3 linked regions of the Homo sapiens genome follow. Each later gene encodes a partner of the first gene's protein in a complex. Each region holds a gene or a part of one and is shown in the gene's direction. Other genes may lie near its edges.

Region 1 (9,416 bases):
GCCCAGGCTGGCAAAAATCATTCTGTGCTCTTTGGGAGAATAGAGATATCTGGCTGAACAAGTTGGCCCCACCAAGGAATGCACTGTGGGGTGGGAGGCTGGGCCACATTGCTTCCTTTGGGATTAGGCTGGGGTTCCAGGATGGCTCAATCATGTACCAGCTTTGTGATGGGAGTCTCAGTTTCCTTATCTCTAAAATGGGAATAACATCATGTGGATACTCCAGACATCCTGGAGCTCAGGAGCGAGCAAGGAGCCAGGAGGGGTGATCTGGGCCAGTTAGTTTACTTTTCCTGACCTTCCCTTCCTCCCAACCAGGAGTACCTGAAGGGCCTCTGCAGCCCAGAACTGCAGGATGAAATCCACTACCCGCCCAAACTGCACTGCATCTTTCTGGGAGCCCAGGGCTTCTTCCTTGACTGCCTGGCCTGGAGCACGTCAGCCCATCTGGTGCCCAGGGCGCCAGGCTCACTGATGATCAGTGGCCTGACTGAAGCCTTTGTCATGGCTCAGAGCCGGGTAGAAGAGCTGGCAGAGCGGCTGAGCTGGGACTTCACGCCAGGACCATCTTCCGGAGCCTCTCAGTGTACTGGAGTGCTGAGAGACTTCTCTGCCCTGCTGCAGTCCCCGGGGGATGCCCATAGAGAGGCTCTGTTGCAGTTGCCCCTGGCTGTCCAGGAGGAGCTGCTGAGTCTGGTGCAGGAGGCGTCTAGTGGGCAGGGGCCAGGAGCACTGGCTTCTTGGGAGGGGCGGAGCTCAGCCTTGCTGGGTGCTCAGTGCCAAGGAGTGAGAGCTCCCCCTAGTGACGGCAGGGAGTCCCTGGACACTGGATCTATGGGACCCGGAGATTGCAGGGGAGCAAGGGGAGACACTTACGCTGTGGAGAAGGAGGGAGGGAAACAGGGTGGTCCCAGGGAGATGGATTGGGGGTGGAAGGAGTTGCCTGGGGAAGAGGCGTGGGAGAGAGAAGTGGCCCTCAGGCCACAGTCAGTGGGTGGAGGGGCAAGGGAGTCAGCACCCCTGAAAGGGAAGGCCCTGGGGAAGGAGGAGATAGCTCTGGGAGGAGGAGGGTTCTGTGTCCACCGTGAGCCTCCCGGTGCCCATGGCTCCTGTCACAGGGCAGCTCAGTCCCGAGGAGCCTCCCTCCTCCAGCGGCTCCACAATGGGAATGCCTCTCCTCCGAGGGTGCCCAGCCCTCCACCTGCACCGGAACCCCCATGGCACTGTGGAGACCGGGGTGACTGCGGAGACCGGGGAGACGTGGGGGACAGGGGAGACAAGCAGCAGGGCATGGCACGGGGTCGGGGGCCTCAATGGAAACGAGGCGCCCGAGGGGGCAACTTGGTGACTGGCACACAGCGTTTCAAGGAGGCCCTGCAGGATCCTTTCACCCTGTGCCTTGCCAATGTGCCTGGCCAGCCAGACCTCCGCCATATTGTCATTGACGGCAGCAACGTGGCCATGGTGTGAGTACCTGGTGGGGCTAAGGGCCTAGGAGAGGGAGGATATGTCCTGAGGGGCTGGCATTGTAGCCAGGGTGCCAAGCCCCTCCTCTGGCCGACCCCCTCCCACTACAGGCATGGCCTCCAGCACTACTTCTCCAGCCGGGGCATTGCCATTGCTGTGCAGTACTTCTGGGACCGTGGTCACCGTGACATAACTGTCTTTGTGCCTCAGTGGCGCTTCAGTAAGGATGCCAAAGTCAGAGGTGAGTTGGGCCTGGTCTTCAGTGTCCCAGGATAGGCTCTGTTTCCACTTTGAGGAGAACCCTATTATGTTCTTTTTCAATAGAGAGTCACTTCCTGCAAAAGCTGTATTCCCTCAGCCTGCTCTCCCTCACACCCTCACGAGTCATGGATGGCAAGAGGATCTCCTCCTATGATGACAGGTACTTGCTCCTCTCCTGGCCCCAGGCTTGATATTGAAGGAGCCCTATGGAAGACTGAGGGAGAGAGAAAAGCTCCTGGTGGTTTACGCTGTTTCTAAGCCTTGGTGGTGGGTAAGGGGCCAGTTATTCCTCTGTGTGCCTTATGATTGGGTAGGTAAACCTGCCCTGCAGGTGTGATGAGATGAACTGTAGACAACCATGTTTGTCTATTCATCATTCATCAAACAAAATGATACCTTGTATTTATATAGTGCCTTACTGTCTAGAAAATACTGGTTTAGTGGAAAGGTGGGAAAGCTGGTTACATAAGTAGCTGACAGATGTCTTCTTATAACCTGAATTTCCAAACATGCAGAGAAATTTCCCTAACATTCTGGAAAAACCAGAGTAAAGGTCAAAATAACAAGTAAAATGGAGAAACACAACGCATGAATAATAGGACTGTACAAAACATGGTATAATAGAAAGATCACTGGATTTAGAATTGGAAGATCTGAATTTGAGCCTCAAGTAGCACTACTCATTGACTTTGACTGTGGAACTTTTCTTAGTGAATTAACCTCTTTGTCTCAGGGTCCTCCTCCATTCATTTACCCTCCTTGTGAATATACGAAAAAGATAAGGTATGTGCTTGCCTTGCTCAAGGTGCTAGGCAAGAGTACAGTGACATTCCATCCTAACTTTGCACAGACCTACTCAAGTGTGGCAGCGGGTATATCTCCAATCTACAGTCGTGGAGACAGAGGGTCAGAGTGGTTACCTGTCTTAGCAAAGGGGAATTAGACCTCAAAGCTGCCAGATGGTTTGAATGAAAATACAAGGCACACTTCTACCATAGTCTGCCTAGGTGGTGTGAGAAATGAGCAGATTTTAGAAAGCCAAGTTAAAAAATTTACAAGTTCTTTATTCTCTAGGACATTATACAGTTTTTAAAAATTAGTTTTTCCAAACCATAGTGATTATATACTTTGTCTTTTCAAACACTTACCTTCTATTCCTTAACAAGCAAATGGTATTCTACAAAAAAGCAGTTTACGTTCTCCCAATGTTATTCTATTTATATCTAGATGTCACAGATTACCCAAGATATGGAATCTTCTTTCCACACCTGCATTGAAACAGAATTGAAACTGAAGATTGAGTTCGTTTTAATGAATGTTAAAGGCATGTGTCTGCCCAGTTGTGTGGGACCTGGTTGGCAGATAACATAATATAAATTGGGAATTCGCCCAGTAACAGTGAATAAGCACAGTGGTACACAGCGTAGGCATACGGAATGAATGTTGCTGAACAACATACTGTGTAATGCGATCATAGTAAAATATGCTTAACTGGAAAATACCATTTGCATACCATAAGTGTACCATATAATTTTTTTTTGGTTTGTTTTTGAGACGGAGCCTTGCTCTGTCGCCACGCTGGAGTGCAGTGGCACGATCTCGGCTCACTGCAACCTCTGCCTCCCAGGTTCAAGTGATTCCCTTACCTCAGCCTCCCGAGTAGCTGGGACTTCAGGTGCATGCCACCGTGCCCAGCTAACTTTTTGCATTTTAGTAGAGATGGGGTTTCACCATGTTGGCCAGGGTGGTCTTGATTTCCTGACCTCATGATCCGCCCACCTCAGCCTCCCAAAGTGCTGGGATTACAGGCGTGAGCCACCAAGCCCGGCCATAGACATTTGTATGTCATTCCCTTAATTTGTTTCCCAGACAGAAGCTCAGAGCCTGATATCTGTCACACCTAATCCTGACTCCCAGTTCCCCCTATACCACACTATCTTTCAAATACTGACTGCTCACTTAGTACTAGGTGCATGGCCTGCAGGAGGAGGTGGGAACACTGGGAACAAGATCTGATTCTTGACTAGAGAGCCGAAAGAAACCATAAATCAAACACTACAGGAACTCAGAGGGAAAGGAGCCCCATTCTGGCTGGGGTTTTGTGGGAAAGGAGAGATTTGTGAGTTTTTGTGTTGAGAAGACTGGGATGGGTTGGATCTCTGTTTCTAAATCTGTTAAAAAGACCACCACCCATCACTTCATGAGTCCTACCCTGTCTTGTGGAATCAGAATTACTGAATGGAGCCCAGGCATTTTTTAAAAAAGTTCCCTTGGTAATTCTGTTCCTTAGCAAGTCTTGGGAAGTGCCTTCCAGATAGAGGAAATAGTTGGAGAAATATGGAAGTCAGCATAAGACATATGTGGAGAGCAGAGTGTAATCTGATTATTGATTTTAGCTGGAGTTGAGAGTGGGTTAGGGAATATTGGGAGAGATAAGGCTGTAAGGGTGATTTGAGCTGGCCTGTAGAAGGCCTTAGCTGCCAGGCCTGGGTGTGTGGACTTTATTTGGTAAATAAAGGGCAAGTGTGGAAGAGTTTTGTGTAGGTGATAAGCATGCTTTCTTGGGGCAGGGCAGGGGAGACTGGAGGGTGGGTGAGTGGTCAGAGGCGGGGACCCCCTTGTTAGGAGGTTATGCATAATCTCAGTTGCAATATCTGAATTACTGGGGTGGTAATGGTGGGCCTGGGAAGGAAGGGAGCAGAGCACAAGGCTTTTCAAAGGAAAGGCATGTTGGATTTGCAAGGGATTGGTTGGGCAGGGTGGAAGACAGAGCTAGATCTTACTGTTTACTAACGAGGCACAAAGTGTTGGGTGAAGGACTATGGTTGGCAGATAGGATGCTACTGGGAGACCACCTTGGATTCATCTTTGTTTCCTCTCTAGGCCATGGCACTTGCATCTAGTCAGTTGCCTGTAGCTGGGTCAAGGTGAGGTAGGGGGCCAGATCTCCATCACCAGAAGTGGCCTATGGGAGACAGTAAAACTTCTGGGGTTGGGGCCTTGGAGAGTCCCAAATGGTTGCTGTGGTTTTTACTTTTATTTTTGTAGATTTGGGGGATACCAATACAGTTTTGCTACATAGATATATTGCATAGTGGTGAAGTCTAGGCTTTTAATGTAACCATGATCCAAACAGTGAACATTGTACCCAGTAGGTAATTTTTCAACCCTCTCTCGGTTGCTGTGGTTTTGGAGACAGGTTCATGGTGAAGCTGGCTGAAGAGACAGATGGGATAATTGTCTCCAATGACCAGTTCCGGGACCTGGCGGAGGAGTCTGAGAAGTGGATGGCAATCATCAGAGAACGGTGAGGGAGCCCTCCCGCTGAGAACTGGGCACAGATGCAGATGTTTTTCTAAAGCCAGCTCTGCTCTGGCCATGGGGTGAAAACTCTGGGAAGGAGGTGAAGTTTTCTTGAAGGATGGAGCCAGCAGCTTCTGGTGATACTGGTCTCGGTTGTCTGGGAGGTGGGCAAGGGCCCCCTCTGTGACCACACATTATCTTTCGCCATCCAGCCTGCTGCCCTTTACCTTTGTGGGAAACCTCTTCATGGTACCTGATGACCCACTGGGGCGAAACGGCCCCACCCTGGATGAATTTCTGAAGAAGCCAGCCAGGTAATCAATCCCCTAGACTACTTACAGGCAGCCCCCACCCCTGGCCCTCTCTCAGCAGGCCCAGAGACTTGGGTGGAAGTGTGACCTCAGTTTGGGCCAGCTTAATTTTGCAGTGGTTTGAGTTGCATTGGCCTTGGCCTTTATAAGCTTCCCAGGGGATCCTGACATAGAACCTCCTTGCTGGGAGGGAAACACCTGCTTCCTGTTTCTCTTAATCAGCATGTTTGATGGAGTTATTTGGAAAATGGTTGCTTATACTGACAGCCAGTTGTATTCAGCATGCCTTCTGCTGACCATTACATAAGTGATTCATTTAGGACTAGAACTAGATCATAATAGTGGCAGAGTTCACCCTGTTTCTAAAAGAACGGCCCATCTTCCCTTCAGAAGTGGGTTGATACTGCCACTCAGTGGTCAGCTTCAGGAACTTCAGGATTTCTCCCCCAAAGCCAGGAATAGGCAGGACAATTACGAGAGGGGTGCCCACTAAGATCTAATTTCCCCCCCAGGATGCTCATCAGCTCTTTTTGGTCTGTTTCTTCCCAGGACACAGGGGTCTTCTAAGGCTCAGCATCCTTCCAGGGGCTTTGCAGAACATGGTAAACAGCAGCAGGGGAGAGAAGAGGAAAAAGGTAGTGGTGGCATTCGGAAGACCCGGGAAACAGAGCGGCTCCGGCGGCAGCTGCTGGAGGTGTTTTGGGGTCAGGATCACAAAGTGGACTTCATCCTGCAGCGGGAGCCATACTGCCGGGACATCAACCAACTGTCTGAGGCCCTGCTCAGTCTTAACTTTTGAGCCTCACCTGCTTGAGTGGCTGCCGCCCTGTCAGCTCCAGCCGCCTCCAGCTCAGCCCTTTCTGTGAGAGTCCCTCTGCTGCTCACTCTGATCCAGAGGCACCCTGAGTTGGTGCTTTGGATCAGGGAAGCCACTTTGGGACAGGTCCATAAAGTGAACTGATCTTACCGAGTCAGGACCTCAGCCAGCTCTCAAGAGGTTCTGCTCAGCCTTAACTTCTCAACTTTGCCTTAGCACAGGGTTTCTGTAGGGAGTGGGGGCTGCTAGAGGGGATTAGTTCCGGAGACTGAGACTGTTGGCTCCACCTCCAAGCTGAGCTAGGGTGGAGGGCAGGGTGGGCAGGAAGTGACAGGAAGTTAAGCTGTTCCTCTCCCTGGCTGCTGCTCTGGATGGCCAGAGAACAAGATGCTCCCTTGCTGAGCTCCTGGGAGCGTGGAAGGAGATGCTAGGCCCTGGCACAGTGTTATGTGGACTGGGCCACGATAGGGTGGAGTGAGCTAGTGAAGAAGGCAGAGGGAGACTTGGCTTCTGGTCTCAGCTATGCCTGTTTTGTGACCTTGATTGAGTTGCTTGGGCTTTACTTCTGCCTACAAATCAGGGGTAAAAATACCTGTTGGGAGGAGAAATGAGAACATAGAGGAAAGCCTCTTGGAGGAAAGGTGCTTGGACCAAGTCTCAGGTGTGTCTGCCTGTGGCTGCACAGGCTCTCTAACCGAAACCTCACTTTCAGAGAGATGTGGGTCCTTTGTCTCCAGGATCCACACCCTAGATTTTAACACTGCATTCTCACTATAACGTGCCCTATAATGGCTGCATCCCTTTTGAGCAACCTCCAAAATCTACATTTACACAGTAGGTAAATTAGGGATGACTGCATTATCAAAATACTCTCAGGGTTCCTATAAATGGCAGCTCTCCTGTTGTATTCAGGTGTTGTTTACAGACTAACAAATGTGTTGGCAAATCCCTGGTTAGATGCACTTCCTGGTGTTGAGATGAACACGTCGATTTTTCACCAATCGATGAAGCCATGCTCTGCAATGACAATATTAATGTGATCCGACCCTAACATTTTCTCTATGGAAGACGTATGTTGCATAAAGCAAGGCACACTTCTGCTTTATGTGTGTGTGTATGGGGATGGGAGGACTTAACGGAAGTTGAACCAGTTGGTTCTAGATGAACCAATTATCTGGAAAATGAAAGAACCAGAGTTGGAAGGCACTTGACTGGCCACCAGACCAACTCTGCTGTTACTGACATGCTTTCTTCACCCTGATTCCTAGAGGTCATTGCCCTGGATCTGCTTGAAGTCCTCCTGTGCCAGGGAATTTACTATCTCCAGGGTAGCACATTCCCTGTGTAGACGGTATTAATCAGTACTCCTTACTTTAGTGCAGCCTAAAGTATGCTTTTCTGTTACATCCACCTTTGAGGCTGGTCATACCTCCAGGAACAATACAGAGCCAGTCAACTTCCTGGAATCCAAGACCAGATAAAGAAGTAGGACAGGTGCCCCTGGGTTCTGTTCTGTGTGGGCCTGTGGGGAGTCTCTAGACAAGATCTTTTCCAGGCCCTGACTTCTGCCTCCCTCTGAGTGGCACAGGGAGTTGAATACTGCATGGCGAGTGTAATGATGATGGGGAGGGTCCTTGTGTCCTCACCCCTTCCTTTTTGGTGATTTACACCACTGTACCATACTGACCCAGGCTGGGGGCAGGTGTGTTGGAGACAGGCTGGTCAAAGAGGTGACAATGATTAAGAGATAACCCAGCGGTCCCTGAGAAGAGATTGGTTAGTATGGCCTGAACTGGTGGCTGGGGGAACTGTGTCTGGTCAAGTTATGGCAGATGTCACAGCTTTAGGTAGGTAAAAAGGGTCCTAGATGAAAACCTTGGAGTTTTTTTTTTTCCTGATAGGGTTGTTTATACTTCTTGATTGGTTTCTTGCCATTTTCACTTTCAGTGATGGTGGGTGTGCAGTAGACCAAAAGTGTCTTCTGCCCTTTTGTGCTAAGGGCCCTGGTTGACTGAGTGGCCCCAGTCAGATGAGAGGCAAGTCCTAAGCTTCTTATAGACAGGGATGTTGACTTTGTTCTGCTGCAGCCTGATAAACTGGGACCACTGTGTGGTTAGTAATGCACTTGCCATTTGGTGACACAGACTGAAGGCTATCCTACACCTGGGCCTTACCTCTTCCTCTACTGGCATCCTAATGGCACTCTGACAGCATCCAGGGTGACTACAGGGCCCATTGGAAATGGATCATCATTCTCTCTTCTAGTGTCTATCTTTATCATAACCTGATGTCCCAAACTTGTGACAAGTTCTTTTGGCAACTGAAGGACCAAGAAGGGAAACGGTGATGAGAGAGACTGCTCATTGTAACTTTCAAAACCCCGTCTTTGGGGAAGAATCATCTAGGGTGACATTCCTTGAAGTAAATCCCAGGAGAATCTAGGCCAAAGAGATGAGCCAAGGTTAGTGAGACAATTTATTTTTATTGCCTAAACTGCAGAGCATTCTCTACACAGCGTAAAGGAGAAGTGGGGCAGCTGCAGGACATGTAGAGAAACCAAACTGGGAAATCTTACAAGGAGTTGAAAAGATTAATGTCCCAACCTGATGAGATTACGGCCTTGAGACAATAAGGTGGAGCAACAGAACAATGGGAAAGAGGACTGGGAGAGGAATCTAAGAACCAGATGGCTTCAGCTCTCTAGAGGAGCTGAGCCTATTCACAGTGCCTAACCTGGAAGCCTGTGAGGAACAGGCCTCAGGCCCTTGCCACGACCTACTTAGGCTACAATTTCCTTTAAGGCAGCCCCTAGCTCTGGGAAGGAATACTGGTAGCCAGTGGCCAGTGTTCGCTGTGGGATCACCTTCTGGCCCTCCAGCAGCATGATGGCACGCTGTCGCCCAAAGACAGCTTGCACCACAGCGCTGGGGAGAGGGATGAAGGCTCGGCGGCCCAGGGCAGCACCCAAGGTCTGGGCAAACTCAGCATTAGTGGCGGAGGATGGAGCCACTCCATTCAGGACCCCGTGCACGTGGTTTGCTTCAAGGGCATGGGTCAGGATTCCTGCCAGGTCCCCGATGTGTATCCAGGGGAAGAATTGGTGGCCTGAGCCGATGGGGCCCCCCAGGCCCAGGCGAAAGGGCAGCAGCATGTGGCCCATGGCACCACCCCCACGGCCCAGCACAACCCCTAGAGCAGGAAAGAGGGAAGGTACAGGGGTCCTCTCAGCCTTGAAGGAGCCCACTGCTCCTCCTGGT
Region 2 (9,699 bases), on another chromosome or scaffold:
GGATAGTGTAACAAGGTCATGCCAACTGCAGTGAAGGATTACACTCCTTTCAGAAAACAGCTCCTACTTTCTACTGGGCCCTGGTGGAGACACCAAGTGATCATGGATTCAAAACTGGCTGCCATCAGCTACGTCCTGTTAGACACACCAAGTGATAAGGTCAGGGCGGGTCAGTATCAAAGCCATCATAGGATAAAACTGGTACATCTGGGACTGAACACAAGTGGGACCAGAGGGCACACGCACACTCAAGCTGCATGAGCAATTAGCCCAGATTTCCATGTCATTCACTACGGTTGCACCAGCACCCCTCCCCCAGCCTCACCTGTGGTCATGTGAGGGGGTCCCATATAACCAGCTAAAGGAGGAGGGAAAAAGACCAAGTTTGCGTTAAGGATGGGCTAGCTTAATATGTGGGTACAAGCTGAAAATGCATGGCAGCTATATTACAGTCTCACTCAGGGAAGTCCTTGAAAAACAGTGGTAAGGGAAAATCTCCCCAGCGGGAGGAGCTTTGAGAGTGTACCTAGTCATCACTTCGTATGGAAGGAGTATGGCCTAGGGTTAGAACATACATGGTCTCATGGGCAGTGATGGTGGCCTGGCTGGGAGTTTGGGAGCCTAAAAGTAAAAGGAAGCATATGAATAGATGTATGGAAGTGGGCAGTTCATATCACATTAAGACCCACAAAAGATGTGCCAACTACACAAAATAACTTGGCCAGTTAATGTTGGCCAGGCTTAGTGACAGGCCCCCTCCCCCACTGCTGCTCAAAGAGGCCATGGTGGCCAGGAGATGGAAGCGATGCAAGAACCTAACAGCATAGATTATCATTTGCCAAAATAAACACAGCTACTGCCACCTCTGAGTGTCTGATCTGCCAGCCATAAAGACCAATGCTAAGCTCTATTCCTTAAGGAGACCAATAGACTACTTGGGGACCAGTAGACTGCATCGGGCCCCTTTTGTCCTGGCAGAACCATCGGTGGTTCTCACAAGAAGAGGCAGTTATTCTGGATTTGGGGTTGCCCTTCCTCCCTGCAGAGCCTCAGTAGTAGCACTCTTTTTTTTTTTTTTTAGATGGAATTTCACTCTTGTTGCCCAGGCTGGAGTGCAATAGTGCGATCTCAGCTCACTGCAACCTCTGCCTTCTGGGTTCAAGCGATTATCCTGCCTCAGCCTCCCAAATAGCTGGGATTACAGGCGTGTGCTACCACACCCGGCTAATTTTGTATTATTAGTAGACACAGGGTTTCACCATGATGGTCAGGCTGGTCTGGAACTCCTGACCTCAAGTGATCCCCCTGCCTCAGCCTCCCAAAGTGATGAGATTACAGGCTTGAACCACCGTGCCCGGCCAGTAGCACCACTTTCTGGAGACTTAAAGATTGCCCGATCCACAGACATGGAATCACACTTAACATAGCATCTTATCAGGTGAATCTTTTCATGGCACAGAAAGTGGAGGGAATGAACCCATGAACATGGTACTATCCATGGTCCTATCATACACTTCACCACCCAGTAGCTATAGGATGAAGTATTGGAATGGCTAGTTAAAGATGGAGTCAAGCACCAGAATGGAGCTGATACCCTACAATGATGACACAGACTCCAGAACATCGTGGTATATGCCTTGAATCGGTCAAGTTAGTATGGTACTGTGTCCATACATGAGTCTGGAAAGAATGGGTAAGCCTGAGTGGCCCTACTTAGTATAATTCCAATGACCCCCTGCAATTTCCTCTCCCAGCAATGCTGGGCTCTGCAGAGTTATAGGTCTTGGTTCCCCAAAGGGGCACACTCTTGCCTGGAGATACCACAGAGATCCCACTGGACTACTGTGATGGCTGTCACCAGGTACTTTGGCCTCCTAATGGTCAGAGACTAGCAAGTAAGAAAGGGAATGGCCATCTTATTCGAGGTAACTGTTGCTGGTCAGCAGGAGGTGTGGCTGTTGTTACACAATGTGGGCAGGTGGAATATGTATGGAATTCTGGTGACCTATTTTGGTGTCTCTTGGTAATCCTTTGCCCAGCTGGGACTGAGATGTGCTCAGACCACTTTCAAATAGGGCACCCGACCAGATTAAGCTACTGAGAGCAGCTGAGGTGGTGGCCAAGGGTGAGAGGGATTGGAATGGATAGTGGTAGAGGGATATGATGAGGACCAGACCACCAGCTGTGGCCTTGAGACCAACTGCAGTGACAAGGACTATAGTTCATTCCACTAATTTCTCTCTGGTAAGCTTCCTTGTAGGAAGAGTGACCCTGAAAAGCCTGTTCCCTAAATACAAATGGATAAAGAAAGCCATGTAGTACAAAGGGTGGACTACAGCTGACACAGGGTGGCACTCAGGTCAAGCTTGCAGCCCAGCTTTGAGGAGCATGTTTAGCCAATATCCTCCAGCTTTAGCTCTTTCAAGATCTGCCCCAGCATTCGAGCTGAAGTCATCCACTTCTCTGGTGGCCCCCACCGGTGACTGAGCAAGGCAGTACAAGGGCCTAGCCTTTTCTGTCCAAAGCTGGACTCCTACTCCAGAGCTCCTCATTGGGCTGGCAGAGACTTTGTTAGGTCCGCACAAAAGTCTGATAGGCCCCATGGATCAATCATGCTTTTTCCTTTGACTTTTTCTGGCATTATGCCCCAGAAAAAGTGCAGAGAAAGTTCTGCACTCTTAACTCCATGTCAGGATCTCCTTCCTGGAGAACCCAATCTCTGATGGCACATATTTCAAAATTTTTCAAAATGTCTCCTTTTCCCTTCCCAGAACTCCTTAAATCACCTTTCTCTTTCACTTTCCCTTTCTTTTTTCCTTTCACTTTCCCTTCTTTTTTCCCCTTTTCCTTTTCCTTCCTTTTTTTCCTTTTCCTTCCTTTTCCCCTTTCCTTTCCCTTCTTTCCTTTCCCTTCCTTCCTTTCCTTTCTCTTCCTTTCCTTTCCCTTCCTTTCTTTCCTTTCCCTCCCTTTCCCTTTCCATTTCCCTTTCTCTTTCATTTTCACTTTCCCTTTCCCTTTCTCTGTCACTTTCCATTTCCGTTTCCCTTTCCCTTTCCCTCTCTTCCCTTTCCAAAAGGATCTTCCTCTGTTGCCTTTGCTGGAGTGCAGTGGCACAATTGTAGCTCACTGCAACCTTGAACTCCCGGGCTCAAGAAATCCTCCCGCCGCAGCCTCCCAAGTAGTTGGGACTACAGGCACATACCACTATGTCTGGCTAATTTTTATTTTTAGTGGAGATGAGGTCTCGCTATGTTGCCCAGGTGGATCTCACAGTATGTTGCCCAGGATGGTCATGATCCTCCCGCCTTGGCCTCCCAAAGTGTTGGGATTACAGGCACAAGCCACTGCACCTGGCCCTTAAATCATTTTTCATGGCTTCAAATTGGAGGAGATTCTATGTCTGTACTCCCAACCACTGTAGCCAAACTAGACTCTTCAGTCTCTCATCTTCTATATTCCCATTGTGGCATTTACCCATGAATTTGCTTATATTTCCATGCATTTTTTCATGTCTTCGCATACATGCTCCTTGAGTGCAGGGACTGTTTTTTAAACTTCTGCATGTCCTTACATTACTAACTAATGTAAATACCACATAGAAGATAGTCAATAAACATCTAGAACTTAGTTGATTTGATAATAAAAGGTCCCTGGGAACCTGTCAGACCACAAATAAGGCCAAGTGGATTAAAAGACAACTATAGAAGCAGCAACTAGAGGGAACAAGATGTCCCTCTTAGACATCCTAAGATGATCCTATGTGGCCCCCATGTTTGGCTGGTTTTCATAACAAAGTACTCTATTCCTGAAAGAGGGTTTATATACCATGAATGACAAAACTGAGGAGAATTCTCATTAATCATTTTGAAGAATTTCTAAGTTAGCAACCAGAATCTATTATTTTTTAAAAAGATGTATTTCTTATCTGATCAAATGACCCATCTATTTTATTTGAAGATGTTGGAAAAAAAAACCTTTTTTCTCTTCAACTTGTGTCCTGTCTTTGGGGGCCTAAAAATTAACTGGCACTAGACAGATAAATAGGAGAAAAGACAAAGTTTATTTACACATGCATGCAGGAGCTTCCAGTAACAGAAAACTCAAAAGTAAAGGTTTATATACCTCAACTTAACAAAAAGGAAAGTTTTAGGGCTTCAGTAGGAGAGTTTGGAAGTTTTGATTGGGTTGTTTTGTGTTTTTGAGACAAAGTCTCAGCGCTATCCCCCAGGCTGGAGTGCAGTGGCACAATCCCGGCTCGTTGCAGCCTCCTCCCGTGCTCAAGCAATCCTCCCACCTCAGGCTCCCGAGTAGCTGGGACTGCGGCTGCACACCACCATGCCCGGGTTGTTTTTATTATTATTATTATTATTATTATTATTATTATTATTATTATTATTGAAGAGAGCTCACTATGTTGCCCAGGCTAGTCTTGAACTCCTGGGTTCAAGCAATCCTCCCACTGCCTCGGCTTCCTAAAGCGCTGGGATTACGGGCTGAGCCACAGCACCCAGCCCATTGGGTTTTTTGGTGCTAATGGTAATGGGACAGTCTGTCTTCCTGGCAGCTGAATACTCCGAGAGGCTTTTAATGGCACCATGTTTTCGGGAGGTTTTGCTTTAGTCAGATAAGGGAAGTTTCATTAAGATTTCTTTCTACATCTTCTGTAGCTCAATGTTTTCACTTAAAAACAATCTTTATGTCAACTCTGGGGGTCAAAGTACGTCCCCACGGTGGAAAAGTTCTTGTCCCAATCTCTACGGGGAGGAACCGATCTGAAATCTTGGGATATGTCTTAGCATGTCCACCGTGATTGAGGTACAAGCAGTGGTTCAGGGCACCGAGTTAGCGATTCTAGGTAAGCAAGACCATGTCAAGAAGTGGTTTGTCCAAAAGTTCGTGAGAAGGCAGAAACGAGGGAGAGTGGCAATCGTTGTTCTTTAAGAGGGCACGGTGGTGGAGGAGAAACTTGCACATCGGGGCCTGGGGTACCACGATCTGGGGCCTGGGGACGCGATTTGGGGAAACTCGGTGGCATCTGGGCTCCGCTTGATGCCAGTGCGTGTTCGTGCAAGTTACTTCCTCAAGTTCAGGGTGAGGATAATAATATCTACCATGTGGAGTTGCTGGGAAGATTCACTACCAACAGAGGCAGAGCGCACGGCTCGCAGGAAGCGCTCGCTAGGGTCTGCTCTTTCCGGGAATGGGTGGGGTGCGCACTCCTCAACAGGGCTCTCAGGACTTGCGTCACACGCCTCAGTCGGCTGGCTTATAAAACACCGGCCAGAGCCCCAAGATCGCTTTTAGTTTCTCTTCTTTCTAAAGAAGGCTCGCGGAGCCCGGCTGGAGAACCTCACCCTCGCCGAGCCTAGAACCGAGAGGGGGCCACCCCAGGCGGTCACCAGCAGATTTGCCCGCGCGTTCTCTTTCTTTCCACCCAGTTGCCCTTGCGGCCGGCTGTAAACCTGCCACTAGGACCCGGTCGGTGAGATCTAGCCTCTTGACCTGAGAGCCGAGAGTGGATCGCTGGGCTGGGCTAACGGCGACGGAGAGCGCGCCCTCGCTGACTCCGGGCGCGCCCAGCAGTAGCACCGCCCGCGCCCGCCCCTGGACACTTGTAAGTTTCGATTTCCGATTTCCGCGGAACCGAGTCCCGCGCCGCGGCAGAGCCAGCACAGCCAGCGCGCCATGGCGGACCCGGAGGTGTGCTGCTTCATCACCAAAATCCTGTGCGCCCACGGGGGCCGCATGGCCCTGGACGCGCTGCTCCAGGAGATCGCGCTGTCTGAGCCGCAGCTCTGTGAGGTGCTGCAGGTGGCCGGGCCCGACCGCTTTGTGGTGTTGGAGACCGGCGGCGAGGCCGGGATCACCCGATCGGTGGTGGCCACCACTCGAGCCCGGGTCTGCCGTCGCAAGTACTGCCAGAGACCCTGCGATAACCTGCATCTCTGCAAACTCAACTTGCTGGGCCGGTGCAACTATTCGCAGTCCGAGCGGTGAGTGCACCCGGAGGGAGGGGCGCTGTCCGCAGCCGTGGTCGGGGTGGACTGTCCAGGCGGGCAATGTTCTGGGAGGGGCACGGCTTCGCCGGGACCCCGCACCTGACAGCCTCCGCCTCCAGCCACTCCCTTCTCTGCTCCCCTCTGGGAGCCTCTGCAGGGCCCGCGCTTCTACCTTTGCAGTTCCCTTCCTTCCGGCACCTCCAGACATTTTCTCGAGAATGGCTAAAATGCTAGTGCCTGGAGGAGACCAGGCTCAACCTCCACCCCTTTCCCCGCCCGCCCGCACGAATCAGAAGAATAAAGTGCTCTGGAGCCAGCCAGGGCCTAGAGAAGCGGTAGGCAGGTTTGGGAAGGAAGGAAAGAGCCTCCCGTCTTTGGTATCTTGAGTCTTTCCCTCCCTACTACCTCCTTCCCTAGACGTGGCGGAGCCAGTAACCCAGCCGCCCTGGGCCCCCGGTCCGTCTCCGCCGGAGCGAGCCGCAGGTCTCTCTGCTTGTCCCTCCCTTCCCGGTCACCCCCATGCCCCTCATCACCGCTTTTCTGATGCCTGGCGCGTAGCAGGGGTGGCCCTTTTCCAGGTTCCTGAAGTTGTAGCAGCCGCGGGCCTTCCCTCCGGGTGGTCTCTCTACGGTGGCGCGCGCAGTTGACCGCCTGCCTTGGGACAACTCTCTTAAATCCCTTTGAAGCAGTGTGGCTCACGTCTCGGGCCACTGCTTCTGTTGTTTCCGTTTGCCTTTTTTTTTTTTCGTCTAAATGCAGATGCGCTGCAAGGTTTGGGTTAAGACTCTTGAGTGATTTTCTTCCCAGTTTCTCCCTAAGAGAGCTTGCTCCCTCGAGGACAGCTGCACATCTAAAAAGATGGCTTCCAGGTCCACATTCGCTGCCCAGGCCTTTCCCTTGATCCCAAGCCCTTCCTCTCCCGCGTGTGTCCTGTCCATGGAGTCAAACTCATCTTTTCCCCCAGGCAGGGTTTTAATCCTCCTCACAATCTGTCATCACCAAGTCCTTTTTGTGAAGTCTCTTTCCCTTCTTGGCGGATTCTGCCTTCCCATCTAATTTCTGAATGAACTGAATGAACGCCTTGTTGAATTAATGAATGGCCAGTCTTTCCTCCCACCCTTTCTGTCACTATGTGCTCTGCTCAATTACTTTTCTCGATACAGTACTTTTTACACTTGGCCCATTCTTAAACACTTTGACTTGTGTCCCAGGGTTTAAAATGGTTGTCAGCAAACTTTTTAGGCTGGAGTGCAGTGGCTCCACCTCGGTTCACTGCAACCTCCACCTCCCAGGTTCAAGCGATTCTCCTGCCTCAGCCTCCCGAGTAGCTGGGATTACAGGCATGCACCATCGCACCCGGCCAATTTTTGTATTTTTAGTAGAGACAGGGTTTCACCATGTTGGCCAGGCTGGTCTCGAACTCCTGACCTCAGGTGATCCACTTGTCTCAGCCTCCCAAAGTGCTGGGATTACAGGCATAAGCCACCAAGTCCGACCAGTCGGCAAACTTTTGATCACGCACCTAACAAAAACTCCAGTCACTCACCCCCAATATACGTGTAATAAAACACACAAAGGTAAGTGTTTTAGATGGATGAGGTAGAGGACGCAATGTATTTTTTTAAAAATTTCTTTAGAGCAAAAACCCTTTCAGCTCACTCTAACGTTTTTAAAAAGTGCTTGAATGTGTTCCTTTATTTAAAATTTTCTTTAATATGTTGTGGGGCAACAATTTGAAGGTTGTTTCTGAGTTGCTGGGAGTTATGGGTATCGAGGAAATCATCTAAGTCATTGCTGGTCACTGAAGAAATCTCTGAGAAGGAGAAGAGAGCAGAGGGTGGAGGATAGAAAAGGAAGGAACATTCTAGCATGTTCTAGCACTACACCAAATAACATGGTTGGAAGGCTTTGTTATGTTTTTTCTGTTCTTATCTTTTCTATTATGACAAATTCTTCACCAACTAGTGTTGATTTTTAGTATGAAATACATATGCTTTTTATTTTTTTATTTCTTACTATGGATATTTTCAACATACTCAAAAGTAGAGAGAAAAAAATGATGAAGCCCCTTGTACCCATCATTTCAACAGTTTTGAAAATATGGCCAGTTTTGTTTCATTTATTCTCCCTATTCCCCATGTGTCCCCAACTCCAATGTGTTATTTTAAAGCAAATCTCAGCAACCATTTGATTACTAAGTACTTTAGTATCTCTAAAACATAAGAACTATGTTTTATTAACATAATACAGTACAATGATCACATTTTTGTAAAAAAAATTACAATTTTAATATCATCTATTGTCCAGTTGGTATTCAAATTTCCCTGATTGTCTTATAAATCCAACTTTTATTTTCAGGGAAAAGGATACATAGACATAATCCTTTTAAAAAAAGATTTTTTTAAAATTTTTTGAGATAGGGTCACCCAAGGCTGGAGTGCAGTGACCCGATCTCAGCTCACTGCAAACTCTGCCTCCCAGGTTCAAGCAATTCTACTGCCTCAGACTCCCAAGTAGCTGGGATTATAGGTGTGTGCCACCATGCTTGGCTAATTTTTTGTATTTTTAGTAGAGATGGGGTTTCGCGATGTTGGCCAGGCCGGTCTCGAACTCCTGAGCTCAAGCGATCTGCCGGCCTAGGCCTCCCAAAGTGCTGGGATTACAGGCCTGAGCCACTGCCTCACCTGGCCTATAATTGTTTTCATATGTTACATATCTAACATTTAAATACTTTGTTTCAATTTGTTGTAGGCAATATGCTTAGAAATTTTAGTTTTATGAAGTTTATTATGGTATATTTTTCCCTGGTTTGAAACAGCAAAACTGTTTTAAACTCGTTAATTGGGTTGTTAACCTCCACTTTTATAAGAATATATATAATATAGGGATTATTTGGTCTATCTAAATTTGGATGGACCCTCCAGAGAAGTCAATAAAGTTTATTTTTTTTAGTAGAGTGATAAAATCTTATTTCCTAACATTTATTGGCAGAGCCATATTTTTAATTTCATTTTATATCACTTTTGAATTTGGGAATTACAAACTTTTAATCTATTAATGTATAAAGTGTTGTAATAAGGACCTCTGGGAGAATTTTTTTTTTGTCCTCGGGTCCTAGAAAACATGTTTTTTTCCTCCCTACTTATGTTTTAAAAATATTCTCCTCTTAGCGAGTAATAAAACCTTGTCTTCCAAAACTTGCCACTTGTGAGTTTAAGAACTTTCTTTGTAGATTACCAGTTAATGGGGTCTGTTAACTAATTGATACCCATCTTGACATTACTATTCAGTTCACTAAACTGGTCTCTGTTTACAGGGGGACGATTTGCATTGTGCTGGGTGTATAAAATTTTGTCTGTGGTACTATTATTTATAGATAGGATTTATCCTGTCTATTCTGTAGTTCCTGTCTTTTCTTTTGCAATGTTTTTAGTGATACATTTTAGTTGACAACAGGGCTTGCTTCAATGTTGGATAATTGTTTTGGTGAATCGGTTTGGATATTTCTATTTGCTTTGCTGAAATATATGCCCACACATGGAGTTCTAATCCCACTTCTGATGCAAAAATAATCACTATTTATCGAACAAATAACTATGTGCCAACCACTATGATAAGCACTTTGGAGATGATATCCAGGTTAGTCTTTAGGATAGCTCCTAAGGTAGTATTTTAAGTCCCATCCTTATTGTAGGAAACT
Region 3 (9,829 bases), 200 kb from region 1:
ATCAGATTTACAAAGACTATGAACCAAGGGTCAGAGATACTACACTGACCAAATAGACATTTTCAGCTTAGAACTATGGATAATCATCCAGTATCATGATTAAATGAACTAGGAATATCATAATGCAGCAGAGGAGAAATGGACTGATGTAGCAAAACGGAGTGGCAGGAAAGTGGAAAGATAAAAAGGTACCGACTGTAATAGAAACATACCATGATGGTGTGCTGGGGGAAGCGCTTCCGTACATCTTTTACAAATTCAACAAAGTGTTCAGAGTAGCCATTTGCCACATCCAGGCATATATACTTCACCTGGGGAATAGCTTCCAGGATCTGTTCCAGCTGCTCAAAGTCAGAAGAGCCTGTGCCTGAGCTGGCAGCCAGATGCTGTGGGAGAAACAGAGTCATTGGCATATCAGAGATGATCTGGTGGGCAGCCAGTGGGTCATTGGTGAGTGCTGGTCCCCAGAAAGCCAAAATATAATTGCTGGAAAACTGGGATAAGGAAGGGAGCAGGGTATGCCCAGTGTTACCTCAAGACAGTCAGGATTCTGGCCAGCAAACTCTTGCCACTGAACGAGGCTATAGTGCTTATGGACAGCAGTGAAGAGAGAGAACTGGGGAGAAGACAAAGAAGCATCAAAAGGGAGAAAACTTTATTAAGGTCTCTTTTCTAGAAACAGACCTATTCTATCTGAGGGAGGACATGATTGAAGTTGGGGAGGAAACAAGTCAAAGAACTCAGGTTGAGCTGGGATTTGAGTTCAACCTTTCTTCTCTCTACAAATACTAGTAGGGCTTTTTACCATAAGCTAGTACTTGTCAGATTTCCCACCAAAGTACTGAGTGATCTGGGTTGGATTTCATCTGCCAGCACATTCACTGCTTCTGACTTAAAAGGTGACAAGCTGCTGGTGCAGTGGGACAGGCAGCAGACATGAAAGAACCATGAAGAAGCTGGATGGAGCCTGTGTTTCTCTGCACTGACTCAGCCCCTCCTCCTAAGGTAACCTAGTACTAAACTATTTTTGGTTATGTTCTCGTTCATTTACCAGCAGTAATTCAGTAGATCTGGATGCTCACCAAAGGTAATGCCTTAAGGTTGATAAGAGCTGATAAGGGGCTACCCTACCCTGTCTCCATCTCTAGTGGAAAAAAGGACAAATTTCCTAGTTGGGGACATGGATCAAGCTAAAAAATCTGTTTCATTCAGTCCATTTTAATAAAGTTCAAGGACATAATGACTCATCAAACTCATATTCTCTAGCTCAACAGATTGCAAACAATATCCCAATACTTTGAGGAAGGCATTCAAAGGCCATTGTGTATGCTGGTGTTTGTGCCTTACATGTCTACATGCAAACAGACAAGAGACAGCAGTTGGCTGAAACAGCACAAATCTTGCAACTAACAAGAAACCCAAGGAAGTCATGTATTAGCTAGCAACAAGTGCTCTACATACGTACTCAGAGATCAACAATATCTAGCTAAAGCTGGTATTGAATTCTGCTTTCTCAACAACTCTATCATCAACATACTGATAAGCAAAGAAAAGTCACCATAGGATAGGAAGTCAGCAGATGTTGGAGATATACTGGCAGAGTGTGGCATGATGAGCACATCAGATTACATACCAAACTTAGAAAAAGATGTTTGCTTGCATCCAACCTTTTTATTACAGTAAGACTTGGCTCTTATCTCTAAAACCTGATTTCTTTACCTCTCGTCAGCAATACTGAAAGCCAGGCTCCACATAAAGCATCAAGACAGTCCCCAAAAAGGTTCATGTATTACAGCACGCCTGTTAACTCTGCAGTCAGAGTCACCAATTCTGAACTCTACTGGTCAGGGCAGATGGACAGTGGGCAACAGAAAGATTCCTAAGCAGTTACTGAATGGCAATAAAAATAAAGTAAAAATAAAACTGCATAACTATCAACCTTAAAGAAATGACAAGACATTCCACAAAGACACAGCAATCAAAAATAGAAAAAGGATATGAAGTCCTTAAGACTAATGGAGCCACAAACAATAGCAGAATTCATCAACCAGGGCTACATGGATCAACCAGCAGAGTGCATATGTTCTCAAAGTGCCCAGATAACTCTCTACCTTCTCAGCAACAAGTATAGAGGCAGGTAATAGTACTGACAGGAGCAGCATCTTCCATTTCAAAGTGAACAACTTGTATATAAGAAAAACACATCCCATTTGGGGCACATCCCAGAAACTCCCAGGAACCTAGGACTTAAAGAAGAGGAAGATTAAAAAAAGAATGGCAGAAGTATTCTTTTATTAATGAATTGTTCTTATTAAAGAAAATTAATAAGCTGCTTCTCCTAGGATCTTCTAGTTAGGATTTTTGAATGCTTAAACTGTAGTTTCTGGACTAAAACAGTGAATGCTTAATGTGGACAATCGCATAACTGAAGGGATGCATGTGACTGTGAGGGGGTGACCTGGGTGGTGGGAAAAGTTGGCAAGGTGTACAAACTGCTAAACAGGACAAAAGGGAAAATTCTGTTCATATATCAGAAATATCGGAGCAGAACTTAGCTTTGAATCTCACTAATTCAGATGGCCTTTTGAACTTATCAGATAAAGGGCTTCAGTAGTGGAAAAAACCGTAAATCAGAGCATCCTGACTGCTAACTGCCAGAGAACTGACTGGGCATGGGGGTGGGGATGCAAACACCTCTGCAGTCAGCTGGGCTAACTGGACACCAATAGGGATGGGGCATGAGGAAAGCCCTACCTTACAGAGAACCTTGGCCATCTCAAAGGTGCCCACAGTATCCATATTGGCAGCAATGATGGGAACCCCAGAGTATGTCTGCTTTGAGTTCCGAAATGAAAAGGATCTTGTGAGATCCACCTGCAGATATGAACAGGAAATTGACCATTTCATTAATCCAAAAAACGTACCATATTAGGACAAGGACAGGCATCTTTCTTGGTTGTGGCCCACCGGGAGCGTGGGGTCAAGAAACAGCAAGTAGAGAAGCTTGCTCACCTCACTTCGAGACTTAAGGGTACTGCGTTTGGGCCTCAAAAGGACATCCTTGAAGTCCAGTTTCACATCGTTGTCAATATGAGGCATGGCGCTTAGCCTCGGGGTAGCGATGAATCTGAGGGCTGGAAGGCAGGAAGTCATAAGGACCAATCTTCCCCTGGGCTTTAACGCCCTGTTACGGCTGGTGGCCTCTCTTCGCTTAAGTTGTGGAAGGTCGGGCAAAGGCCGAAGTGTGGTCCCTGAAGCCTGTCACCTCGACCCATCCCGTGGCTGCGATTACCCTAGGGCTCCATCCCAGGTACTGTTTGTTGGGGAGGAGAGCTGGGAAAGGGTTGTGAGAGACCCTGACGGTGCATTCCTTACCCCGCTACACTTCCTTCTTCTACCCCTGCAAAGAGCAATGGGGCAAGAGGCTGATTTAGGGGAACGAAGGAATGTTGGCGACGGGGGGCGGGGAGGGTTCATAACTAGTTTCCGGAATAGAGGTACTCACTTCCTGTTGCCTTGGTCCAGGCGGCAGTTGACCAAAGACCACCTTGCTTAGCAACTAACCTCGTGCAATCCCGCTAAGCCTTCTGGGCCACGCCAACAGGTTCCTCTAGTTGCCGGCGAGAACTACTAGCCGACGAATTCCAGCTTCGGCGGCGGCAGGGCGAGGCCTTCTGGATAACAGAGTTCACGCACTGAGGTTGCTGTTGGATCCGAGGGGGTTAGACTACAACTCCCAGGGGGAAACGGGCGGGACCGCCTCCTGGCACGATGGGAGATGTAGTTCGTTCTGCCCCCACTTTTCGCTAGCCCGGGCTCGCCAGGGACTCTCAGAATCGCAGAGTCGTCATCTCTGCTGTTGCTAAACTGGATGCCTCATTCCAATTTACGACGTCACTGAACCGAAACGCGGGAGCAACCCTGAGCCTTTCCGGAACCCAGTGGGGGGGGGGGGGGGGGTGGAGCCAGACAGTGACCCGGAAGTAGAAGTGGCCCTTGCAGGCAAGAGTGCTGGAGGGCGGCAGCGGCGACCGGAGCGGTAGGAGCAGCAATTTATCCGTGTGCAGCCCCAAACTGGAAAGAAGATGCTAATTAAAGTGAAGGTGGGAGCACCTCCAGCCTTGCCAAGACGCAGTAGTACTGGGCTGGCAGCAGTGCCTTACGGGAGACGTGGGGAAGGAAAACCACGCCTTTCCCTAGCCTGGAGGACGCTGACTGCCTCAGGGCTCCGCGCGAGGGGTGGTGGGAAATAGGGGGACCCAGAAGGGCTTTGAGAGCGGGGCCCAGGTCCCACCTGACGACCCTGGGGTATTTTGCCATGCCTGCTTTTTTGCCAGGACTGTGCTATCACCCAGAATGGGGTCGCTTTTGTCGGGTCTCACTGTATTCGAACCCCCGCAGTCATAGAGAAGGCCTAGCAGCGGCTTGACTCCCCCGTCTCTCAGATTCTTGGAGTAAGCGCTGCTCTCCATTCTTCATTCCCAGGGTACCTGCTTCTCCCAGTCCCTAACGTAGGTCGCCTCCGAGCACAGCCCTAAAATCGGGGCCTCCCAAGGGCTAGACTATGAGCCTTTACTGGTGGTTGCCAAGGTGTGGTATCTCACCCGTCCTACAGGAACCAAAGCGGGGAGTGTGTTCAGTCAGTACCTGCCTTTCTGAGCCTGGCATCCTGGACCAGCCTCACTTCCTTGGCTGAGGCAGGTTAGTTACCGCTGCCCTAGTTCTTGCTACTAGCCATGGTTTCCTTCATCTGCATCTCTCAACTCCCGTGGTGGTTCTTCACCAATTTCCAGCCCTCGTTAGTCCTATCTGCTGTTTCCTCTTTTGTGCCTTCAGACAGACAGAGACCCCCCCCCCCACGCCCCCCTCAAAAAAACAAAACTGCTGACAAGTGAAGTCTAATGCTAGTTTGGCCTTTTTGTAGCTAAGTAAATCTATCGTTATTTCATCAGCTTCTTAGCATATTTACCGTACATAATAGTCATTCTTAACCTTCTCTTCCCCAGTCCTTCCAAACTACTTCTTAGCTAAGATTTGAGGTCTAGTATTAAAATAGTATGTTAAAGATGATTTTTTTTAACGTTGAGTAGCGGCCTATATAAGAGTCGTAACATCAATTTAATAGGTGAATGGGTCACTGGCGCCATTAAAAAGAGAAAATAGGCTGGGCGCGGTGGCTCACGCCTGTAATCCCAGCACTTTGGAAGGCCGAGGCAGGCCGATCGCTTGAGCCCAGGAGTTGGAGACCATCCTGGGCAACATGGCGAAACCCTGCCTGTACAATAAATTCAAAAAATTAGCCAAGGGTCTGGGCGCATGCCTGTAGGCCCAGCTATTCGGGAGGCCGAGATGGGAGGATTGATTGATCCTGGGATGTCGAAGCCGCGGTGAGCAGTGATGGCACCACTGCACTCCAGACCCTGCCTGAAAAAAAAGGCCGGGCCCAGTGGCTCACGCCTGTAATCCCAGCACTTTGGGAGGCCGAGGTGGGTGGATCACCTAAGGTGAGGAGTTCAAGACCAGCCTGGCCAACATGGTGAAACCCCGCCTCTACTAACAATACAAAAACTAGCCGGGCGTGGTGGTGGGCGCCTATAATCCCAGCTACTCGGAGGCTAAGGCAGGAGAATCCCTTGAACCTGGGAGGCGGAGATTGCAGTGAGCTGAGATGGCGCCATTGCACTCCAGCCTGGGCGACAAGAGTGAAACTCCATCTCCCCCTGCAAAAAAAAAAAAGAAAGAGAGAGGGGGAGAAAATAGGAAATAATATAGTGCTAGGTAAGGATATTGTTTTATGATTTTTTTTTTTTTTTTTTTTGAGACAGAGTCTCGCTCTGTCGCCCAGGCTGGAGTGCAGTGGCGCCATCTCGGCTCACTGCAAGCTTCGCCTCCCGGGTTCATGCCATTCTCCTGCCTCAGCCTCCCGAGTAGCTGGGACTACAGGCGCCTGCCACCACGCCCAGCTAATTTTTTTGTATTTTTAGTAGAGACAGGGTTTCACCATGTTAGCCAGGATGGTCTCGATCTCCTGACCTCGTGATCCGCCCGCCTCTGCCTCCCAAAGTGCTGGGATTACAGGTGTGAGCCACCCTCCCCCGTGCCTGGCCTTTTTTTTTTTTTTTTTTTTTTTTTTTGAGACAGAGTCTCACTCTGTTGCCAGGCCTGAAATTTTTTATTTTATTTTATATGTATATTACACAGGGGGTGTTACTAGTTCATACTAATTTTTAGAATGGATCACTGTCAAAATCTTGAGAAACACTAACTGTTGAATATTTTTATTTGAGACGGAGTCTCCCTCTGTCACCAGGCTGGAGTGCAGTGGCGCAATGTCGGCTCACTGCAACCTCCGCCTCCCGGGTTCAAGCGATTCTCCTGCCTCAGCTTCCTGACTAGCTGGGACTACAGGGTGTGCCACCACGCCCAGCTAATTTTTGTATTTTTAGTAGAAACGGGGTTTCACCAGGTTGGCCAGGATGGTATCGATCTCTTGACCTAGTGATCCGCTCACCTCCGCCTAAAGTGTTGAGATTACAGTCATGAGCCACCGCGCCCGGCCTGTTGAATACTTCTGTTGGCTTTTCAATGCATATGGGTTCTCATGTCCACTAGGTCCAAAGAAGTTAAGTTACTAATGCTAAGTGTTTTGTACACTTTTTGAAAATTTCACTCCACATTAAGAAATTTTATGTCACAACCCATAAGGCACAAAAACTTTGCTATTTGTGATATGCTCTCAGACTTTCAATTCTAAGTTGATTTCATAACCCACTGATGGGTTGAGACCTGCCCACTGATGGGTTGAGACCTGCAGTTTAAAAAGTACTGTTTGAAAGGCCAGGCGTGGTGGCTCACGCCTGTAATCCCAGCACTTTGGGAGGCCAAGGCGGGCGGATCACGAGGTCAGGAGTTCAAGACCAGCCTGGCCAACATGGTGAAACCCCGTCTCTACTAAAAATACAAAAATTAGCCGAGTGTGGTGGCACACACCTGTAGTCCCAGCCACTTGACAGGGTGAGGCAGGAGAATTGCTTGAACCTGGGAGGCAGAGGTTGCAGTGAGCCAAGATCGTGCCATTGCACTCCAGCCTGGGCAACAGAGTGAGACTGTCTCAAAAAATAAATAAATAAAATAACTGTTTGAACAAAAAAATCAATGCTGTGTGTGGAAACTTGAAAATACAGTGTCCTATCACCTGTGGTCTTGCTAAAATGCTGATTATGATTCTGTGGGTCTAAGGTGGGGCACAGGTTTCTGCATTTCTCACAAACTCCCAGGTGATATTGAATGTCTGAGAGCTACACTTTGAATAGCAAGATTCTAGATTTTTTCTGTTTCTTTGAATCCATATTTATGTGGTACTTCTCTAAAATTGCCAGTCTTCTTTCCTGCAACACCCTTCTGCCTTCAAACAGGCCTCTGTGCCCCATCTCTCTCTATCTCCCCCTCTCGCCCCATCCCCTCTTGTTTGTTGCATTTCTTAATTAAATACATAGGAAAGTAGTTACACATGAGATAGCTGTTAATCTGATCTGAAGAAAATATTAATTTAAAAAAGAAAAAAAAGAGCTGTTAATTACCATATAAGTGACATTTTTTATTACAGTTCCTTTTTTTTTTTTTTTTTTTTTTTGAGACAGGTTCTCACTCTGTCGCCCAGGCTTAGGGTGCAGTGGTGCCATCACAGCTTACTGCAGCCTCGACCTCTCAGGCCCAAGCAATTCTCCCATCTGAGCCTCCTGAGTAGCTGGGACTACAGGCGTGTGCTACCACCATACCCAGCCAATTGTTTTATTTTTTTGTAGAGATGCGGTCTCATCGTGTTGCCCACGCTAGTCTAAAACTTCTGGGGTCAAGTGATCTTCCCACCTCATCTTCCTAAAGTGCTGGGATTACAGCCGTGAGCTACCATATCTGACCCCTTTTTGAATTATTATTATTTTTGTTTTGTTTTGCTTTTGAGATGGAGTCTCACTCTGTCGCCCAGGCTGGAGTACAGTGGCACGATCTTGGCTCATTGCAACCTCCGCCTCTTGGGTTCAAGCGATGCTCCTGCCTCAGCCTCCCAAGTAGCTGGGACTACAAGTGCCCACCACCATACCCGGCTAACTTTTGTATTTTAGTAGAGACGGGGTTTCGCCATGTTTGCCAGGCTGGTCTTGAACGCCTGACCTGAGGTGATCCACCCACCTCAGCCTCCCAAAGTGCTGGGATTACAGGCATGAGCCACCGCGCCTGGCCTCATTTTGTTTTTGTTTTGAGACATTCTTACTCTGTCACCCAGGCTGGAGTGCAGTGGTATGATCTCGGCTCACTGCAACCTCCACCTCCCAGGCTCAAGGGATCCTCCCAACTCAGCCTCCCAAGTAGCTGGGACTACAGGTACATGCCACCACACCTGGCTGATTTTCTGTATTTTTAGTAGAGGTGGGGTTTCACCATGTTGCCCAGGCTGGTCTTGAACTCCTGAGCTCAAGTGATCCACCTGCCTTGGCCTCCCGAAGTGCTGGGATTACAGGCGTGAGCCACCATGCCCAGCCGAATGATTCATTTTCAACTGCTGTCTCTGTGTAGCTGACTTCTTCCATATTTTTCTATAAGATTTTACAATTAAATTCTTCCTGATTTAAATCTTGTTACCTTGTCTCTATGGTTCTAAAATTAAATGCATCATCTTCTGTCATAAGCCATATCCCAATACCCATCTCGTGTATTAATCCCATCAATCATTCAGGTGTCTGGAATACAATTCTTTAGAGTCATTTAAAATTACGTGGTCCTTTTATAAGATCTAATTTTTCACTTAAAAGCTCTTTCTGTTTGATTTTTGTTTCCATCTCCATTACCCTCATTCTGGTCTCGGGTCTTACTCATTTATATGTTTATGTCTCTGTAATACATCCAACCAGGTTTTCCTACCGTCATATCCCCTCTAAAGTGTAGTCTAAACCAAGACATGACGTACAAAACCATAATGTGCAGGTCTTCCTTTAGCTTCTTTTTCATTATATTACTCCCTAACCCCAGATCCTTCATTGATTTCCTCATTGCAGATTACTTTGGCAACTGTCTTTACTGTGTGAATCAGTTTTCTCATTCATGTTTTTTAACATACAGTAAAATGCACAGTTCTTAAGGGTTTAGTTCAGTGAGTTTTTGACAATAGCATACGTTCATGTAATTACAAAATCTAAACATTTGTATTCCTACCCCCTCAAGAGTTTCATAGGTTAGTTTTGCTTGTTTTAGAACTTTATATAAATGGAATTATTGAATGTACAATTTTTGTATCTGGCTTCTTTCATTCTGCATAATGTCTACTGTAATCTGTGGTTTATTCCTTCTTATTACTGAATAGTATTCCATTGGATGAATTATATCATAATTTGTTTATCCATTCTCCTGTTGATGGGTGTTTGAGTTATCTCCAGTTTCTGGCTATTATGAAAAAGTCTTCTATGAACATTGTTATACGAGTGTTTTTGTAAACATATGTTTTTATTTCCTTTGGATAAATACCTAAGAATGAAATTACTAGGTCATGTGGTAGATATATGTAACTTTAAAAAGAAACTAAGGGTTTGTACCATTTTATATTCCCACCTGCAGTGTATGAGCATTCCAGTTGCTCTGTACCCTTACTAGACGGTACCCTTGTAGCACCATAAAAATGCTGATGTCAGTCATTTTTATTTTGGCTATTATAGTGTTATAATGTTATATAAATTAAAACACTATATCTAGTGTTATATAATGTTATCTCATTCAAGGCTTAAATTGATTAACATTGATTTTCATTCACCATAGCACTTAGTCATTGCCCCTTGTG

Evidence for each region.
Region 2: the proteins of KHNYN (region 1) and ZC3HAV1 are in contact, whole or in part, in a crystal structure (PDB 9BGL), measured with the Homo sapiens proteins. Residues at the interface, in NP_001277186.1 of Homo sapiens: His651, Lys652, Asp654, Phe655, Gln658, Arg659, Pro661, Tyr662, Asn677, Phe678; in NP_064504.2 of Homo sapiens: Glu5 (codon at 5,698), Val6 (codon at 5,701), Cys8 (codon at 5,707), Phe9 (codon at 5,710), Lys12 (codon at 5,719), Ile13 (codon at 5,722), Ala16 (codon at 5,731), His17 (codon at 5,734), Glu29 (codon at 5,770), Ile30 (codon at 5,773), Ala31 (codon at 5,776), Leu32 (codon at 5,779), Leu113, Glu115, Phe118, Ser127, Gly128, Leu129, Asn130, Glu133.
Region 3: the proteins of KHNYN (region 1) and NEDD8 are in contact, whole or in part, in an NMR structure (PDB 2N7K), measured with the Homo sapiens proteins. Residues at the interface, in NP_001277186.1 of Homo sapiens: Gln649, Asp650, His651, Lys652, Asp654, Phe655, Gln658, Arg659; in NP_006147.1 of Homo sapiens: Thr9, Lys11, Glu12, Ile13, Glu14, Glu32, Lys33, Glu34, Gly35, Arg74.

What each region holds. Positions count from the first base shown.
Region 1 is NC_000014.9:24,431,145-24,440,560, forward strand, and holds part of KHNYN (protein KHNYN), read left to right. Parts: intron 1-318; coding exon 319-1,466; intron 1,467-1,577; coding exon 1,578-1,708; intron 1,709-1,791; coding exon 1,792-1,888; intron 1,889-2,955; coding exon of another isoform or gene 2,956-3,016; exon of another isoform or gene 3,017-3,227; intron 3,228-4,923; coding exon of another isoform or gene 4,924-4,927; coding exon 4,928-5,035; intron 5,036-5,243; coding exon 5,244-5,345; intron 5,346-5,891; coding exon 5,892-6,141; 3' UTR 6,142-8,938; coding exon of another isoform or gene 8,939-9,348; 3' UTR 9,349-9,416. Other genes in the region: epimerase family protein SDR39U1, read right to left, coding at 8,939-9,348.
Region 2 is NC_000007.14:139,105,318-139,115,016, reverse strand, and holds the start of ZC3HAV1 (zinc finger CCCH-type antiviral protein 1), read left to right. Parts: upstream 1-5,296; 5' UTR 5,297-5,685; coding exon 5,686-5,993; intron 5,994-9,699.
Region 3 is NC_000014.9:24,226,524-24,236,352, reverse strand, and holds the start of NEDD8 (ubiquitin-like protein NEDD8), read left to right. Parts: upstream 1-3,985; 5' UTR 3,986-4,085; coding exon 4,086-4,103; intron 4,104-4,485; exon of another isoform or gene 4,486-4,701; intron 4,702-9,829. Other genes in the region: GMPR2 (GMP reductase 2), read right to left, coding at 213-386, 533-616, 2,755-2,874, 3,013-3,153; NEDD8-MDP1 protein, read left to right, coding at 4,086-4,103. UniProt on the Homo sapiens protein: Ubiquitin-like protein which plays an important role in cell cycle control and embryogenesis via its conjugation to a limited number of cellular proteins, such as cullins or p53/TP53.